Homo sapiens: one gene and its partner. The protein of the gene in region 2 purifies or fractionates together with the protein of the main gene of each other region. This does not show direct contact. Each region holds a gene or a part of one and is shown on either strand. Other genes may lie near its edges. The genes, in order: ECT2L and KCTD19.

Evidence for each region.
Region 1: the proteins of KCTD19 (region 2) and ECT2L purify together in Homo sapiens (affinity purification with mass spectrometry; one large-scale study listed by BioGRID and IntAct). This does not show direct contact.

The regions. Positions count from the first base shown.
Region 1 is NC_000006.12:138,840,769-138,844,589, reverse strand, and holds part of ECT2L (epithelial cell-transforming sequence 2 oncogene-like), read right to left. Parts: intron 1,612-3,821; coding exon 1,359-1,611; intron 179-1,358; coding exon 10-178; intron 1-9.
Region 2 is NC_000016.10:67,319,986-67,323,806, reverse strand, and holds part of KCTD19 (BTB/POZ domain-containing protein KCTD19), read left to right. Parts: intron 1-1,819; exon of another isoform or gene 1,820-2,145; intron 2,146-2,921; coding exon 2,922-3,218; intron 3,219-3,821. UniProt on the Homo sapiens protein: Transcription regulator which is essential for male fertility and for the completion of meiotic prophase in spermatocytes. Regulates progression of the pachytene stage of meiotic prophase and promotes the transcriptional activation activity ZNF541.

The DNA of each region.
Region 1 (3,821 bases), on a different chromosome or scaffold from region 2:
TTTGCTTACCGCTTGGGCAAGGTTTCTAACGATGTCAAAACAAGCTGTTTCTCCAAAGCTTCATGTAATCCCACTCGCTCCCTTACAGTCTGGGAGAGGCGTGGTTGGCATCTGGGCTTTAGCACGCTAGAGCAGCAAGTTCCACTCACCCAAGGGGGTCGAACTTTGAATAACTCCTCTGAAAAACAAAGAACAGCAGGCGGGGCTGATTACTTCATACTTCTCCCAGCCAAGTCCACACAGATAAAGGCATCAAAAATAAAGCTGTACCAGGGCAAGGTTCCAAATGACAATAATTACAGCCATTTTCATGCACTCGGTTTGGATTTCTCATCCTCTTGGCACTGTGGCTGTGAGCTACCGGTCATTTCAGGTCAAGAAACAAAGCTCAGAGAACAAGCAAACAAGCAACCCTTTTCTAGTGGGGACCAGTTAATCAATTGATAGGTGTCACATTCATTTGTGCCCTTCTTCTTGCCTTCAAGCAATTTCTTATTTGTCACGATCTCACCAGAGGGTTAGTGGGAAGAAAACATGGGAGAACTCTAATCAGTTTTGCTGTTTTCTTTTACACACTGCATAAAGCATAAGGCCTAGCTGAGGCTGGGCGCCGTGGCTCTGCCTGTAATCCCAGCACCTTGGGAGGCCAGGGTGGGCGGGTCACTTGAGCCCAGGAATTCGGGACCAGCCTGGCCAACATGGAGAAACCCCATCTCTACAAAAATACAAAAAATTAGCAAGGCATGGTGGTGTGCACCTGTGGCCCCAGCTACTCAGGAGGCTGAGGTGGGAGGATCACTTGAGCCTCAGAAATCGAGGCTGCAGTGAGCCAGAGATCATACTACTGCACAGCCTGGGTGACAGTGAGACCCTGTCTCAAAAATAAAATAAATAAATAAATAAATAGGGGGCTTAACTGAAAGAGGCTTTAAAAAGAGCGGAAAGAGCTGTCCTCTTTCTCCCTTTTTAAATGCCATTTTCCCTGCTTCCATTTTCACTTGCATTTCTCCTCCTCTTTTCATCACTCCCAATTCCTCTGTTTTGAACCTATTTGTTTGCTTTTTTCCCCATGTTCAAACATCTTTATCCTCTTTGTTTTTGGTCTTATAAGCCTGAGAGGAGCCAGAATAGCAATGGAAGCACTGATATTTAACCTTATGTATTTTGTCTGAAATCTTTGTTTTTCTCATCAATTAACTTGAAATATACAGTACGGAAAAAAGCTCATCTGGAAAATACTTAAGACTGCCACTCAGAGTATTCCGAAAGACAGGGCTGTCCTCTGTGGGAATTTGTATGTGAATCCATTTGTGTCTACAATATTTACCTAAGATATAAAGGTTTAAAATGCTACTTACTCTTACGTAGTGCAATTTTCTCCCAAATTCTTTTCCTCAGGCACTTTTCTCTTTGTCTCTCCAGTAGTTCCTCATCTTCTGTTTTGGGTTCATTCAGCGTCCCATAAGTAGCAGCAGCCTCCCTAGGTGTCAGCCAGTCTAAGTGGGACACACAAGCAATGTAATGGCGCTTCCAAGCACCATACTCATTATCTGTTGGAGTATAGGGCAGAAACCATCCGAACTTAACGCATTTGGGCATCCATAAGCAATCCTTCAGAAACAAGAGGAAGATGAGTCACAAATTGTTTTCAGACAGTTTTCTAGCAATAATATTTTCAGGTACACAGATACTTTTTCATTACACTGAGATTTCTGGTACAAAAATCTCTGAGAATTTGTATGCAAATCCATTTGTTTCTACAATGTTTATATAAAATTGAAAGTTTTAATTTTTTTTATATTTTATTTTACTTATTTTGAGACAGAGTCTCACTCTGTCGCCCAGGCTGGAGTGCAGTGGCACGAGCTCGGCTCATTGCAAGCTCCGCCTCCCGGGTTCATGCCATTCTCCTGCCTCAGCCTCCAGAGTAGCTGGGACTACAGGCACCCGCCACCACGCCTGGCTAATTTTTTTGTTTTTTTAGTAGAGACGAGGTTTCACCGTGTTAGCCAGGATGGTCTCCATCTCCTGACCTCGTGATCCGCCCACCTTGGCCTCCCAAAGTGCTGGGATTACAGGTGTGAACCACCGCACCCGGACTTTTATTTTTATTTCTATGTTTTTTTTTTGAGATGGAGTCCTGCTCTGTCGCCCAGGCTGGAGTGCAGTGGCGCGATCTCAGCTCACTACAACCTCTGCCTTCTGGGTTCAAGCAATTCTCTTGCCTCAGCCTCCTGAGTAGCTGGGATTACAGGCGCATGCCACCATGCCCACCTAGTTTTTGTGTATTTTTACTAGAGGCGGGGTTTTGCCCTGTTGGCCAGGCCGGTCTGGAACTCCTGACTTCAGGTGATCCTCCCGCTTCAGCCTCCCAAAGTGCTGGGATTACAGGTGTAAGCCACTGCACCTGGCCAGATATAACGTTTTTAAATGCTATTACTGACTTACTATCTGAACTTGACTTGGAAATAAGAAGCGTATCTTGTTCCACAGGAAAAATATTATTTGATGAATATATATGTTATATGTGAATGTATGTATTAGACATCTTTGTGACACTTATCCAATGTTCCAATAGCATTTGGTTACGTTAACCCTAGATTCTGAGAATTCAGCTTCTAGCAATAGTGGAATAGTTTCTTTCAGATTAACCCTCTCATTGAGAATAATTTTGACTGAAGCGTACGATATTGCCAATATTCAGCCATTTTGACATACGACAAGAGAAAATTTCATGTGGTTTGAACTGATGAAATACCTAGACCAAATATTATACAAACAATTATTTGAAGGCTATATTATAGAGCTATCAATGCAATAAGGACTTGTTCAACCAAGACCCCAGAAAGAAGGGAAACCCAGAGAGGTAAGCCTGATATTTGGCATCACTTTTTACTTCAAGGCATTTGTCAGTTCCAAAGCAAAGCTTGTTAGGCTGAGAAGCAGAACAGAAAGTTATGACTAAAAGACTTAGATGCTAAAAAAGAATCTTAGGCATTCTCACAGGGAAGAAAGGACACAAATGGAAATTTAGGGCCCACTAAGACGGGAGAGGCTTGGTAATCACACCAGCTTTCAGTTAAGATTCTTTTCAGGAAGGATAATACTTAATTAGACAAACTCTCACAAAGACTGAAGCCAGCTTTGAAACATCTCATTCCTTGACTGGATTTGTAGGATTTGTTCCTAGCACTAGACGTGCCAGAAGCAAAAGTAAATTCTCTCTGGAGGAAGAAAACATCACCCAGAGACTCAAAGGATCACATTAATTTTGTATACTCAGTATCTGGTACTCAATGAAAATTAACTAGAACACACAATAGACAAGAATTCTTTTTTCTTTTTGGTTTTTAATAACTATAGAGAGATCCTCAGGTGATCCAAATATTGTAATCATCAGACATGAACTTTGCGGAAATAAATACTCTATAATTAATATATCTAAAATAAATGACTAGGTAGAAAATTTTGGCAAAAGAATTAAATCAATATTCTAGAACTGAAAATATACAGTAACTGAAATTTAGAACTCAATGGATGGGTTTAAGATCAGATTAGAATCTAGCTAAAGAAACAATTAGTAAACTGAAAGATAGGTCCAAAGAAAATCCAGACTGAAATACTGAAGGTCACAGAAATGGAAAATGTGTATAAAAGAATATGAAAGTTATGAGACGTGGTGAATCTTTCCAACCTATAAGTATTGGAATACTAGGAGAAAAAGGGAGAGAATGGGGCAGAATCAATATGAAGAAATAACATCTGAGAACATTTCAAAACTGATAAAAGATATTAAGTCTCAGACTCAAAAATCACTACAA
Region 2 (3,821 bases):
TTGTGCAACTATCATCACAATCAATTTTAGAACATTTTCACCATCCCCAAAAGAAATCCCATACTCATTAGTAGTCACACCCCATCTCCCCATAGCCTCTCCAGCCCTAGGCAACCACTAATCTATTTTCTATCTCTAGAAATTTGCCTTGTCCACACATTGCATGTGGATGGAATCATATGTGATTTTTTGTTTGGCTTCTTTCCCTTGGCATAATGTTTCGAATTTCATCCATGTTGTTATCATGTATCAGTACTTCATTCCTTTTTATTTTTTATTTTTTTAGAGACGTGCCTCACTCTGACGCCCAGGCTGGAGTGCAATGGCACGATCACAGCTCACTGCAGCCTCAAACTCCTGGGCTCAAGTGAATCTCCTGCCTCAGCCTTCCAAAGTGCTGGGATTACAAGCACAAGCCACCATGTTCATCCCATTCCTTCGTATTGACAAACAATATTCCATTGTGTGGATATACTACATTTTGTTTACTCATCTGTCAGTTGATGGACATTAGGTTTATTCCAACCTTTTGGCTATTATGTTCTATGAACATTAGTCTAGAAATTTTGGTGTGGACATATGTCTTTATTTGTCTTAAGTGTACACCTAGGAGTGGAATTGCTGGCTCATAGTAGAATAACTCCATGCTTTACATTTTCAGGACCCACCAAACTGTTTTCCAAAGTGCCTGCACCATTTTACACCTCCACCAGCAGTGCATGGGGGTTCTGGTTTCTTTGTCGACACTTGTTATTACCTATTGTTTTCATTGTAGCCATACTAATGGGTGTGAAGTAGTATTCTGTTGTGGGTTTTGATTTGCATTTCTCTGATGACTAAGGATGTTGAGCATCTTTTTTCGTTCTGTTGGTCATTTGTATATATTCTTTGGAGAGATGTCTATTTAGATGCTTTGCCAATTTTTAAATTTGGTTGTCTTTTTGTTATTGAGTTTAAGAGTTCTTTATATATTCTAAAAACAAGTTCTTTATCAGACAAATGATTTGCAAATATTTTGTTCCATTCTGTGAGTTATCTTTTCACCTTCTTGATGGTGCCCTCTAAAGCACAAATGTTTTTAAATTTTGATTAAGTTCCATTTATCTATTTTTTTGGTCACTTTTGCTTTTAGTGTCACATCTAAGAAAGTTTTGCCTACTCCAAAGTCATGAAGATTTTCTATTTTCTTCTAAAGATTTTATGGTTTTAGGCTGGGTGCAGTGGCTCACGCCTGTAATCCCAGCACTTTGGGAGGCCAAAGCAGGTGGATCACGAGGTCAGGAGATCGAGACCATGCTGGCTAACACAGTAAAACCCCATCTCTACTAAAAATACAAAAAATTAGCCGGGCGTGGTGGCGGGTGCCTGTAGTCCCAGCTACTCAGGAGGCTGAGGCAGGAGAATGGAGTGAACCCGGGAGGTGGAGTTTGCAGTGAGCCGAGATTGTTACCACTACACTCCAGGCTGGGTGATACAGCGAGACTCCGTCTCAAAAAAAAAAAAAAAAAGATTTTATAGTTTTAGGTCTGTTTCACTTGCAGCTAATTTTTGTGTATGGGTTGAGGTAGGGGTCCAACTTTATTATTATTGTTATTATTATCTTTTATGCATATGGATGGGCAGTTGTCCCAGCACCATTTTTAATAAGGACTATTCTTTGTCCATTGAATCATCTTGGATTGCTTATCAAAATTCAATTGATCATAAGTGTAGGGGTTTTATTCTGTACTCTCAATTCTATTCCACTTATCTTTATATTTATCCTTATGCTGGTAGCACACTGTCTTGATCTAGCTTTGAAATAAGTTTTAAAAGTGTGGGATGTGAGGGTGATCTGGCTGTGACATCTGTCACTCCATTGATTGCCAGGGTTGATTTGGCTGATCTGGCTGTCTAGGCGGGTGTCCCCTTCTTCCCTCAACGCTCCACGTGCGTCCCTCCTGAAGCTGCGTGCTCAGTCAAAGAGGACGACCATCCCCAATAAAGGAGGACCAGTCTTCAGTCAAGGGTATACAAGTATCTGCTCTTCCTAGCTAGAACCTCCAAACAAGTTCTTAAGATCCGTTGTAGGAGAACGTAGGGTAGTCAAGCTTCCAAGACTTCAGACACATCCTAATGAGGCGCTGCATGTGGCAGTCTGCCTTTAAAAAAAAAAAGTGGGAAATGTGACTTCTTAAACGTTCTCCTTTTTTCAAGACTGTTTTAGCTATTCTGGATCCCTTGTATTTTCATATGAATTTTAGCATCAGTTTTTCAATTTTTGCAAAAAGTCAGGATTTTCACAGAGATTGTGTTGAATTTGTAAATCAATTGGGAGACTATTGCCATCTTAACGATATTAAATCTTCCAATCCATGAGCATGAGATATTTTTTCATTTATTTAGGTCTTTTAAATTTTCAACAATGTTTTGAAGTTTCCAGTGCACATGTATTTCATTCTTTTGTTAAATTTATTCCTAAGTATGTTATTTTTGATGCTATTGTAAATGGAATTGAATTGTTTTCTTAATTTCACTTTCAGATTGTTCATTGCTGAAGTATAAAAATACAACATTTTTAAATATTGCTCTGCATCTTTCAACCTTGTTGGGCTCATTTTTTTGTTTGTTTTTCTTTTTTGAGACAGGATCTTGCTCTGTTAGGCCAGAGTACAGTGGCACAATCATAGCTCACTGCAACCTCAAACTCCTGGTCTCAAGCCACCTTCCCACCTCAGGCTCCCAAAGTGCTTGGATTACAGGTGTGAACCACCATGCCTGGCCTGGACTTATTTCTAATAGTTTTCTGGTGAATTCCTTAGGATTTTTTATATACAAGATCATGTCATCAGCAAACAGAGATAGTTTATTTCTACCTTTTCAATCTGGATGCCTTTTTATTTCTTTTTCTTGCGTAGATCTCTTTTTCATTCCCCCTTTAGGAGGAGTCTGGCATGGCTCATGAATCAGCAGAGGACTTGTTTCATTTCAACGTAGGGGGCTGGCATTTCTCAGTTCCCAGAAGCAAACTCTCTCAGTTTCCAGACTCCCTGCTGTGGAAAGAGGCTTCAGCCTTGACCTCTTCAGAAAGCCAGAGGCTATTTATCGACAGAGATGGTTCCACATTTAGGCACGTGCACTATTACCTCTACACCTCCAAACTCTCCTTCTCCAGTTGTGCAGAACTGAACTTGCTGTATGAGCAAGCATTGGGTTTGCAGCTGATGCCTTTGCTGCAGGTAAGATGCTCTTGTTTTCTGGGAGTGGTGGATCAGTAACATGGCTTTACATCACTAAATATTGTTTCCTGTTATATATTGGTTGCTGAGATGACCCTCTTAATGGGCAAATGTAATAAGTGTGTTAAAGTAATAAATAATTTCCTCATTAGTATAGGGGTGAGTAAAAAGGAAAAAAAAGTAATAAACAATACACTGAAATTACCTGCTTTTGTTTTTTCGAGACAGGGTGTCTGCTGCAATCACAGCTCACTGCAACCTCCACCTCCCAAGCCCAAAGGATCTTCCCACCTCCCACCTCAGTCCCTCTGAGTAGCTGGGAACACAGGTGCATGCCACCATGCCCGGCCAATCCTTTCCATGTTGACCAGATTGGTCTTGAACTCCTGGGCTCAAGTCGTCCTCTCTAATTGGCCTCCCTAAGTGCTCCCTCAGCCTCCCTAAGAGCTGGGATTACCGGCATGAGCCACTACACCCCGCCTATATGTTCTTAATAAATGATTTCATCCCAACTGTGCTTTAGTTAGACTAGCAGCCACCATGGACCCAGAATGGGATTTACTATCCACTGAGAGGGTGCCCCTGGCTCTTGAAAATCCTATA